Linked DNA regions of Homo sapiens. The protein of the gene in region 2 purifies or fractionates together with the protein of the main gene of each other region. This does not show direct contact. Each region holds a gene or a part of one and is shown on either strand. Other genes may lie near its edges.

Region 1 (3,725 bases), on a different chromosome or scaffold from region 2:
CATCCTATAGAATACTTGAAGGAACGTATCAGATTTTAGGTATATTTTTGTCATTCTAAGCAGTCAACACTGAGTCTTGAACATAGAAAACTCTCTAACTCTTTGCTAAATGCATTTATTTAGAATCTCCTAGCTTGGGATAGAGTTGGGATTAGTTAACTTGCTGAGTTTCCTTCTATCTCTTAAAATGTAGTCCTTCACTAACTAGAGGTTTTAAGAATCTCTGCCTTTAGCATAAAAGTAATGATGGCATATGTGTTACTCAGCTGTTTCTGTTTTAAGGGGTCTCTAAGAAGTATATGTCCAATATGAATAAAAATATTGAGTTTAATTTATTAAACAATATCTAGAGGTGTGACTGAGCTAACAATTCCATATACTGGCAGGATGCTGAGGTTTGAGTCCAACAGTAATCGTTTAACACTGAGCAGTTTAAAAAATGTTTAACCATTTGCCAACAAGTTTATCCTACTGCACTTCATTTTCATTCCTCATTTATCTCCCTCAAATATAACAACTTACATATTCATCTCTGCCCTTTAACAGTGCACATTTCCATTTCATGCTGTAATAGATTGTTAGATTCGATTGTGGCTCCAAGCTGTTATATGTGAGAAATAGGAAGTTGCGCACCTGTTTTGCTAAACAGAAGTTTTGGTTCATTCTGCTAGAGTCAGACATTACGAATTCAAGTGTGGGCTGGGTGCCATGGCTCATGCCTGTAATCTCAGCACTTTGGGAGGCCAAGGCAGGCGGATCACCTGAGGTCAAGAGTTCAAGACCAGTGTGGCCAACATGGTGAAACCCCATCTCTACTAAAAATACAAAAATTAGCCAGGCATGGTAGCGCACGCCTATAAGTGCAGCTACTCGCTCGAGGCTGAGATAGGAGAATTGCTTGAACCTGGGGAGGTGGAGAATGCAGTGAGCTGAGATCGTGCCACTGCATTCCAGCCTGGGTGACAGAGTGAGACTCCATCTCAAAAAAAAAAAAAAAAAAAAAAAAAAAAAAAAAAAAAATTCAAGTCTGGACTCAAAATGCATCCCTTTTCGTTTTTGCCTTCTATATCCTTGGTCTATGACTGCACAAATTCAAATGTTTTGCTTGGTTTGTCTTTTTAAGTTGATACTTAGCTTCAGCGACTTGACAACAGTAACCTTTAGTCTTTTAATACTTACCTGACAGTATTTGTGCATTACTGTAAATAACTAATGAGACTTATATTTTATAAACTAAATATATTTTTACATAGCTATCAAACAAAAAAATCCCTTCGGTTGTGATTCCATAGTGTATCCTCTGGTGAATTACTTTTAAAAAATTTTTCTTTTTTTATAGAGAAAAGGTCTCACTATGTTGCTCAGGCTGGTCTTAACCTCCTGGCCTCAAACACTCCTCCAGCTTTGGCTTCCCAAAGTGCTGGGATGACAGATCTGAGCCACCATGCCTGGCCTGTGAATTACTTTTATAAAGTGGAAATGTCTTTCTTTTGTGTGAATTATCTTAGTTGTTTCTTCAGATATAAAATACTGTGTGTATGTATGCATGTGTGTGTACACACCACACACATATTAAGTGCAAGCAGGAAAAATTTCAAATTAACCTATATGAGTTGCCTCAATTTTTTTAATAAACTGTATTTAATTAAACTGTTAACCAAATGCAAGCCTTAGGAGGAACTCTAAGATTCTTCTTTCTCGTTTTTTTTTTTTTTTTTAAATCTTAACATAAAAATACAAAGTGTTGAAAGTATAGATAACTTCTTTTTTCTTTTAAAAATATCCCTTAAAAAGATCCATCCATGTTCACTCATGTCTTTTTTTAGTGACTATTAAGACGTTGTGGCAGATGGGATAATTAAACTTATGTCTGTGATCAAGATAGAATTATCAACACTCCTGAGTATGAGGGTGTTAACACATACTAACACACGGCATTTCAGCTTTTTGTTAAGAAGAAAATTCCATACGATTTGGTTTCCTTCCATATTAGTTATAATGCGTTTGTCTGCATAAATTGGGTTTTATGTAGCCTGACTCAAGTGCTTGGAAAGAACTATGTTAGGTACATTATAGGAAGTGCAGAGTAGTAGACCGATTCCAAAAGTATTTGATTCAGCAAATCAATGACTTTATTGTAGATCCAATTTCTTTCTCTTTCTCTGCTTTACTCATCACAAAATTACTATTATCCAAAGGCTGTTTTTCTCCTTTGGTAATCAGTTCAATTCAGAAAGAGACAACCATCTGTTTCTGCAGTCCTGGACTGTGTCTTTCCCTTCATTCTGGTTAGACCCACCCAAGACCAATATTCTTACCCTAATCAACATCCAACTTTGGATTGGAGCTGAAGATGAGAGTGAAAACGGGAATAAAATGGATATTCTGTTGGAAAGATGAAAGAAAGGAGTGGATGGTGGGTAGGCAAACAAGGGTCTGCTATTTCTTCTTCTAAACTTTTAAAAAAATATTTATTTTTATGGCCGGGTACAGTGGCTCATGCCTGTAATCCCAGCACGTTGGGAGGCCTAGATGGGAGGATTGTTTGAGCCCAGGAGTTCAAGACAAGCCTGGGCAACGTGGCAAAACCCTGTCTCTATGCCAAAAATACAAAAATTAGTGAGTCATGTTAGCACACACCTATAGTCTTAGCTGCTTAGGTGGCTGAGGTGAGAGGATCACTGAGCTCCGGAGATCAAGGCTGCAATGAGCTGAGATTGCGCCATTGCGCTCCAGCCTGGGTGACAGAGGAGACCCTGTCTCAACAAATTTAAAAAAATATATGTTTTTATTGAGGTATAGATGACAAAAAAAAATTACATATATTTACCGTGTACATGTTATTTTTGTATATGTATATATTGTGAAATGGGTAAATCAAGCTAACTAACATGTCTATCACCACTATTCCCTCTTTATTAGCTTTTAATATATATTAGTTTTCTGAAATTTTAGATTGCTTCTGAGGTTGTTAATATCAGGAATAGTTCCTTGTAATATGCAATACTGAACCTGTGTCACAATAGATCTTAATTTCAGGTTTTCCTTATATCAAAGTATCCTCGAAAAACCCAAATGCTTATACGTTCACAGTTTTTATGTGGAGTATGCTGGAAAACTTGCTTTTTAAAAATTAAGACTAAACCTTTTGAATATTTAATTGTAAAGGAGGAAATAAAGTCTTCAAAGTTAAAATGATTTTTGGTTATGAGGTAAGTGTTATAAATAGGACAATGTTATAGGTCATTTCATGGCTTTTCTAAAAGAAGGCCTTACGTGACGTACCTATATTATATTCTTTAGCAAAGTTGTTTTCAATTTTAAGTAAGTTTCTTTTTTTGTGACTGTGGAAAATTAAATATTAAGGCCACTAAGGTCATTCTTGATTTTACCACACACAGATAATTATTAACACTTAGTGTATTTCCCCCCGGTCTTTATTTTTCTTTTCAGAATGTCCCAGTGAATAGGATATACCTTTTAGACATTAATAACACAAATAAATGCTTTGAAGCTGATGATGGATTTATTAAACATTGTGGCTTTAAGATAACTGAATATGTTAATGTTCAGCCACTCTCTTGTTAAAATTTAAAAAAGACAGTATATGGTAATAGCACATTAATAATTTGCATGTCCTAAGAAATGTGTATATATCTTTCTTTTGTATAAAATTAAACTTACCTGTGTAACCTGAGGTTATCAGTGTCCTTGTCTTTTTCGTT
Region 2 (4,281 bases):
CTGGCACAGGATCTCAGCGGCCAGGCGGGTCTCGACGGCCCCGCAGCGGCGGGGGGAGACCAGCAGGAAGAAGTCATAGCGGCTGAAGTCTACCTGCTTTAGGTACTTGTCAGCCGGGCAGCCTGGAGAGCCGGCTCCTGGCAGGTCCCAGAGGGTCACGTCAGGGAACTGTGGGTGTGGATAGGGCGACGGTTGCATCGTGGTCTCCATGACGCCCGTGAGAGCCGCGCCAGGGTCCTCGGCCTCCAGGCCACGCAGGGCATTGATGAGGGAGGACTTGCCCGCGCCCGACTCGCCCGTGACGCCCACCTCCAGGCGGATGCTTTCCGTGGAGGCCAGCAGCTCCTGGAGGTGAGAGGCGGCCTGGGGGAGGTCACCCGACTCAAAGGCTGTGCGCAGGGCCTCCAGCCTTTCCTTGGCCATAAGGATGGTGTTTTCCTCCTCCCCAGGCACCACGGGCAACTTTGAAGTAGCCATGGTGGCCAGTGGTTCAGAGGGTGGCGGGGGACAGGGGAGAGTCACAGGATGCGTGATCCTCAGCGCCTGCAGAGGAGAAGGGAGCCATTCACACCTCCTGGGCCTTGGCATGGGGCAGGGAGAGACAGATACCACGGATGTGAAGGGAGTCGCCCTGGAAGCCCACAGCTCTCTTTTTCCTTCAAGAATTGGGGACACATTTTTGGCACAAGTTAGAGGGCTTTGGGGTCTGGCAGGCCCAGGTTCACATCCCTTTTCTGCCACTAACTTGCTGTGTGACCAGGGGCAAAATGAAGCACCTCTCTGGGTAATGGGCATGACCACCAAGCAGCCTCTTGGAGCACTATTGGAGTCTCCAGGGTAACCTAGGCACAGGTCAGTTTTCTGGGTGTATGTGTGCCCTGGAGGGTTCTGTGCTTAGAATGGCCCAGTGCTTGGTTTAATGCTCTGCTGACACTAGCTGAAATTGTTTGTTTGTTTGTTTGTTTGTTTGAGACAGGGTCTCTCTGTCATCGAGGCTGGAGCACAGTGCTACGATCATGGCTCATTGCAGCCTTGATCTCCTTGGCTCTAGCAATCCTCCCACCTCAGCCTCCTGAACAGCTGGGACCACAGGCGCATGCCACCATGCCCAGCTACTTTTTAAATTTTTTGTAGAGATGGGAGTCTCACTATGTTGTCCCAGCTGGTCTTGAACTTCCGAGATCAAGGTCCTCCTGCCTCAGCTTCCCAGAGCGCTGGGATTAAGGGCATGAGCCACTATGCCTGGCCTGAAATTCTTTATAATATTTGAACCAGGGGCCCCATATTTTCATTTCGTACTGGGCCTTGCAAATTATATAGCCAGGGCAAATTACATAGCCAGGGCTGCATAGGAAAGGGTGGTACAGGCCCATTCAGAGGAAACAGCTGCACTCCTGCGGTGGCTGGGATTGGAGGGTAGGGTGGAGGGGACCCAGACCCGGAGCCAGACTGCCTGGGATCAAATCCTGGCTCCACCACATACTTACTGAGTGATGTGAGGCAAGTTACTTAACTCTCTCCTCACTCTCCTCATCTGAACACTGAGAATGATACCTACAATCCTGGCAAACCACCTCCTAGGATCTCTGTGACTTGAATGAGTTATGACATAAAGCAGCCCATAAAACGGCGCCTGGCTCAGGGCAGGTGCCTCGTGTCATTGGCATCACCATCATCGTCATTATTCTTATCATTAGTAATATTCTTAGCTGTGTGACTTTGAGCAAGTCCTCGCCCTGTCTGAGCCTCAGCTGCCCCGTGGGGGATACTCCTCCCCACCTCGCAGGGCTGCTGTGATGCCCACAAACCCCGTTCAGCTAGCCCTAGGCTGACTTTGGGTTCAGACGCCCTTGGGTTCGGGAAGCCAGACATGGGGACCACCTGGACACCAGGAGTCATTTCCATGAAACCCCACCCCTGCCATGGCAGCCCTTGCCTCCCGGGGTTCAGTTCCCCTCCCACCGCCCAGAGCTCCTGTCGTGATGGTCCCCCCTCAGATCCCTCCTCCTCACCAGGAGCTTCCCTGGTCCTCCCTCTTCCCACTCACCCTCCTCTGGCCCATCATCTCTAAAATACATTTACTCACTAAGGGTCTTCAGGGTGCCCTGGGAGAGCTGCTCATGTCTGGGATCACTGTCCCCATTTGACAGGGAGAAGGACTGAGGCTCAGACAAGACAAATGAGGTCTCCTCATCCAGAGGCATAGCCAGGACCCCAACCCAGGTCCCCAGGCTCCTTCACCCACCTAGAGAGCTACTCTCCCTTCAGCTGCATGTCCCTGCCTCCTGCATTGTCTCCTTGCCCCCTGCACCCCGTCTCTTCACCTCCTACCACTCACCCCATCCTCTGCTACCCCACTCCACCCCCCACAGAAATATGTCCTTAAGACATTGTTCCCGGCTGGGCATGGTGGCTCACGCCTGTAATCCTAGCACTTTGGGAGGCCGAGGTGGGTGGATCACTTGAGGTCAGGAGTTCGAGACCAGCCTGGCCAACATGGTGAAACTCCATCTCCACTAAAAATACAAAAATTAGCCAGGTGTTGTGGCGCATGCCTGTAGTCCCAGCTCTTGAACCCAGGAGGCGGAGGTTGCAGTGAGCCAAGATTGCACCACTGCACTCCAGCCTGGGCGACAGAGCGAGACTCCGTCTCAGAAAAAAAAAAAGGAAAAAAAAAAGACATTGTTGCCTCCAGATCTGAGCCTCCTATCCTGGGTGTGCCCTCTCCCTAGTATGGTCTGCGGTGGGAAGAGTAGGAACCTGGAACAGGTCCTGGCAGCAAGGGGCAGACAAGTCAGTGGTTGGAATTTGGGCTGAGGGGGTCCGGATTAGACCATAAGCTCCTGCTCCGCCCACGCACAGGGGCCCAGCGAGAGAGCCCTGGGGGACTCACCTGCCCTGCAGGCTCTCCCTCTCCCCTCACACTCTCCCCACTGATAGGATCTCCTTCCCTCTTAGCCAAGGTCAGACACCGTTGCTAGGACCCATTATCATAGCAAGCAGCAGCTTATTGGTCAGCCAGACCTGGTGCAATAATGCGACAGTGATGTCAGGGGGTGGGGCCCGGAGGTGGAGCAGGGACCCCAAGCCCCAGCTGCTCATGGGGTCACCACCCACTCACACTGGGCCCTCCAGTTCCCCTGAAGACTCCAGAGAGATCTTTCTAACACCAAGACCTGTTCAAAATCCTCCATGGTCTCCATCACCCCCCAAGGACAAAGTCTCAGATTCACAGATTGGTTTCCAAGGGCTTGGCCCTGCTACCACTCCACCCTCCACCCAGGGGACTGTCAGTTCCCCAGAGAAGTGTGAAAGTTGATGATACAAATTCGGTCATTGCTGGTGGGCACAGTGGCTCACGCCTGTAATGCCAGCACTTTGGGAGGCCGAGGCGAGTGCATCACTTGAGGCCAGGAGTTTGAGATCAGCCTGGGCAATGTGGTGAAACTCCATCTCTACTAAAAATACAAAAATTAGCCAGATGTGGTGCATGCATGTAGTCCCAGCTACTCGGGAGGCTGATCTGCTATCTTGTAAGCCCAATAATTTAGTCATTGATTTCTTTTTTTTCTTTTTTTGAAACAGTGTCTTGCTCTGTCACCCAGGCTGGAGTGCAGTGACACAATCTTGGCTCACTGCAACCTCCGCCTCCTGGGTTCAAGTGATTCTCCTGCTTCAGCCTCCTGAGTAGCTGGGACTACTAGCATGCACCACCAGGCTTGGCTAATTTTTTTTTTTTTTTTTTTTTTTTAGTAGAGGTGGGGTTTCACCATGTTGCCTAGGCTGGTCTTGAACTCCTGACCTCAGGTTATCCGCCTGCCTCGCCTCCCAAACCTCCTGACCTCAGGTTATGCCGCCTCCCAAAGCGCTAAGATTACAGGTGTAGCCACTACACCCGGCCCCTTCTTGTCCTTTATAAGTGTCTCTGTCCTGTCTCCCCTCCGGGCTTCCTCTCTGCCCAGGCCAGGCTCCACAGGGCCTTCTCCATTCTCCTCTTGTAGGGAATTTACAATAACGCTACTCAGAGGATTTTCCTGACCATCTGCAGGCCAGTTCTGGAAAGGAGCCTCTGAGAACAACTAAGGAGAGAGAGGCCCAGAAGGGGAATAGACTAGCTCAGAGCCACCCTGAGAGCTGGGGAAGAGTGGGCTGTTGGCCGCATAGTACAGAGTTCTTAAGCCACAGGTGAAAGGGAGGTGCAGGGCAAAAGACACACGACTCACTCATGCTCTCACTGACTGACACAAACACACAGAGCTGAAGAGAGTGAACAACATGGTT
Region 3 (3,500 bases), on a different chromosome or scaffold from region 2:
CCTTTAGTGCATTTTATAATAGGGAAGTATGTTACTCAGCATGCATTGTTGATGCCCTACATATAAATGAATAAGAATAAAAATACATCTTTATAGTACTTATTATTCTACAAACAAGTGATTTTGAAAGTGTTTACAATGAAGTGTACAGCAAGAAATATGACTTAAAAAAGCTTATGTTACAAACAAAAATTGAATTTGCACAACAGAAAAAGCAGAGCTACTTGATATGGGGCCTACATCTTTGTCTGTGATTCAGCCTTATTCCAGTCCCCAGTCGGCTATAGGTTTTCAAGTACCTTTGCAAATGAGAAGTTTGAAACCTATGGTATAGAAGGAAAGGATTTAGGAGGATTCAGAATTAGAATATCTGAATTCTTGTCTCAGGTACACCACTTACAGGCTATGTAACTTTGAGCCTGTATTTTCTCAGAGGGTAATGGTGAAGATTAAATAAAAATAATGTATTTGCAAGCAATACCTGTTATCGCCATTTTGGACTTTCAGTAGCCACTCCCTCCTTTCTTCACCCTGAAGTCATAGCCTTACACAACTTATGCTAAAGAAGCTCGTCATGGGTTAGGGACTAATAACACACAGTAGATGATGAACAGCAACTTACTGATTCCATAAACAGGCTGAGGAAAGTTGTGCTGCCCTTGGCTATACTGATATGAGACATCCATGCCTATGAGCTTTGTATATGTTAAAACTTGAATTTTGTAGGATATACAAGTTTGTGGTTTCTATGTTAGGTACAGAATTTGTAATTTAAAAACTTGCCATACATTCATGTGCTTGCATAGTAAATGGCACAGACTATTTCAACATGAGCTCTGCTTAAAAACCAGTGTTTTAATTGTTTTTCTACAAAATGGAAAACAGGATAACTGACTCATGAAAAAACTTTAGAGCAAAAGCAACTTAATCATCAAGCAAATCCAAGTACAAATGATATCCTAAAAAGAATCCAATGCTTCAAAAGATATATCGAGTTCCCTTTGATTAGAAAGATGACTTAAGATTTGAGTTCATTTTTATTTCTTGTATCTTTTCTAAGGCAAAGGTTGACAAACTATGGCCAGTGAGCCAAATCTGATTCATTGCCTGTGTGTGTAAATAAAGTTTTATTGGTGCACAGCCATGCCCACTTGTTTATGTATTGTCTGTGGTTGTTTTGTGCTACATAGCAGAGTTGAGTAGTTGTGACACAGCCCATATAGCCCACAAAGCCTCAAGTATTATCTGACCCTTCACAGAGAAAGTCTGCCGACTCCTGTTCTAAGGCATCAAAGAACCAGAAGACCTCAATTCATCATAGCTGACCTGAAGGAGGCAGAGGGTGAAACAAACTCGGCATGAAAAACATTTTGAGGCACAGGAGAGGATATAGACAACATCGTCATGTTTATCTCAACTCTTTTAAAATTCTACTTTCTTTTTTTTTTTTTTTTTTCTGAGACAGAGTCTAGCTCTGTCGCCCAGGCTGGAGTACAGTGGCGGATCTCGGCTCACTGCAAACTCTGCCTCCCGGGTTCAAGTGATTCTCTTGCCTCGGCCTCCTAAGTAGCTGGGATTACAGGCATGCGCCACCACGCCCAGCTAATTTTTGTATTTTTAGTAGAGACGGGGTTTCACTGTGTTGGACAGGCTGGTCTCGAACTCCTGACCTTGTGATCTGCCCGCCTCGGCCTCCCAAAGTGCTGGGATTACAAGCATGAGCCACCGCACCTGGCCTAAAACTCTACTTTCAAGTCACATAGGTATCTAGGATTTTGGTTCTTGCAACCTTTTCGATGACATATGAAAAAAATTCCTAAGAGTAAAGTTAATGATATAAAATGTATTTTATTTTATTTTTTGAGACAGAGTTTCAACTCTGTCACCCAGGCTGGAGTGCAGTGGTGCGATCTCCGCTCACTGCAACCTCTGCCTCAGAATCAAGTGATTCTTGTGCCTCAGCCTCCTGAGTACCTGGAATTACAGGCACGTGCCACTATGCCCAACTCATTTTTGTATTTTTAGTAGAGATAGGGGTTTCACCATGTTGGCCAGGCTGGTCTTGAACTTCTGACCTCAAGTGATCCAACTGCCTTGGCCTCCCAAAGTGCTGGGATTACGGGTGTGAGCCACTATGCCCAGTCTAAAATGTATTTTAAATTGCTCACTTGAAGTCAGTAGAAAAAGATCTATTCACAGAATGAACTATATCTTACAACATTCCAAATCTAAAATTATTTAGACATCCACTCACCTGAACAATTGAATGTACACCAACTGTCTGCATAGCTTGGCTTTCATCATCTGAGGTAATAGCAACAAAACTAAACCCCCGAAAAAGCTGATGTGCATTAGCACTAGGTGGAATGCCAGGTGAATCTGAAAAGAGTAAGAAGTGACAAAGAAGATTCATTTGAAAGGAAATTAAGGGAAAAACTGTTGACACTATGACCTTTTTCACTTATTCTGGAATTCTATTTCTCAGGTACACAGTATATACCTCTTGCTTTCCAGGATACCTGTGAGGCACTGTATCAGATCTGTTCTGATTGTGTATTGCCATTACAACACCAACATCCTAGTCCCTCGGAGCCTAGAAAATAGCTAATTCATTTGAAGACTATAATACATCGATGAATTATAGGGTTAATGGTATTCAAAATTAATGCTGTCCCATGGAATTTCCTGAAATGATGGAAATTTTCTTTAACTTTACAGTCTGATAGCCACTAGCTACATGCAGCTTTTCGACATTTGAAACGTGCCTAGCGTGACTGAGAAACTACACTTTAAATTTTAATTAATTTAAATTTAATTAGCCACATGTGGCTACTGGCTACCATATTAGAAACTGCAGCCCTCAATAATAACCTAGTTGGGGTGGAACAGGGGAGATACAAGGTTGATCTACAGCAAATTTAGGAGATGTGAAGATAGCTTAGAGAGTTATCCAGGAAAAGATTTTCTTTTTTTCTTTTTGAGACAGAGTGTCGCTCTGTCACCCAGGCTGGAGTGCAGTGGTGCAATTTTGATGCACTGCAACCTCCACCTCCCAGGTTCAAGCGATTCTCGTGCCTCAGCCACCCAAGTAGCTGGGATTACAGGCACATGCCACCAAACCTGGCTAATTTTGGTATTTTTAGTAGAGACAGCGTTTCACTATGTTGGCCAAGCTGGTCTCCAACTCCTGGCCTCAAGCGATCTGCTCGCCTCAGCCTCCCAAAGTGCTGGGATTACAAGTGTGAGCCACCGCGCCCAGAGTCTGGAAAAGATTTTCTGATGAAACAAGAAAAAAACATATTTGTTGTCTTATATTTGGATTTTCACATTTTCTCCTTACCTTTGGGAGTTTTTGCAGTAAACTCAGGATCAAAATAGAATGTATCTTCAGGCCTGCCCGTTGCAGGTTTAAATGGCGGATGAATTTCTCTTCTATACAGTTTCTGGAGGGGAAAAAAAAAAGAGACTTAGACATATTTTAATTATAAAGAAATATTTCA

What was found.
Region 1: the proteins of IRGC (region 2) and AP3S1 purify together in Homo sapiens (affinity purification with mass spectrometry; one large-scale study listed by BioGRID and IntAct). This does not show direct contact.
Region 3: the proteins of IRGC (region 2) and RPS6KA3 purify together in Homo sapiens (affinity purification with mass spectrometry; one large-scale study listed by BioGRID and IntAct). This does not show direct contact.

Annotation. Positions count from the first base shown.
Region 1 is NC_000005.10:115,844,855-115,848,579, forward strand, and holds part of AP3S1 (AP-3 complex subunit sigma-1), read left to right. Parts: intron 1-3,725. UniProt on the Homo sapiens protein: Part of the AP-3 complex, an adaptor-related complex which is not clathrin-associated. The complex is associated with the Golgi region as well as more peripheral structures.
Region 2 is NC_000019.10:43,714,755-43,719,035, reverse strand, and holds the start of IRGC (interferon-inducible GTPase 5), read right to left. Parts: upstream 2,961-4,281; 5' UTR 2,894-2,960; intron 2,160-2,893; exon of another isoform or gene 2,087-2,159; intron 657-2,086; exon of another isoform or gene 589-656; coding exon of another isoform or gene 478-588; coding exon 1-477. UniProt on the Homo sapiens protein: Required for sperm motility and therefore male fertility, via positive regulation of spermatozoa fibrous sheath formation.
Region 3 is NC_000023.11:20,172,910-20,176,409, forward strand, and holds part of RPS6KA3 (ribosomal protein S6 kinase alpha-3), read right to left. Parts: intron 3,444-3,500; coding exon 3,341-3,443; intron 2,380-3,340; coding exon 2,255-2,379; intron 1-2,254. UniProt on the Homo sapiens protein: Serine/threonine-protein kinase that acts downstream of ERK (MAPK1/ERK2 and MAPK3/ERK1) signaling and mediates mitogenic and stress-induced activation of the transcription factors CREB1, ETV1/ER81 and NR4A1/NUR77, regulates translation through RPS6 and EIF4B phosphorylation, and mediates cellular proliferation, survival, and differentiation by modulating mTOR signaling and repressing pro-apoptotic function of BAD and DAPK1.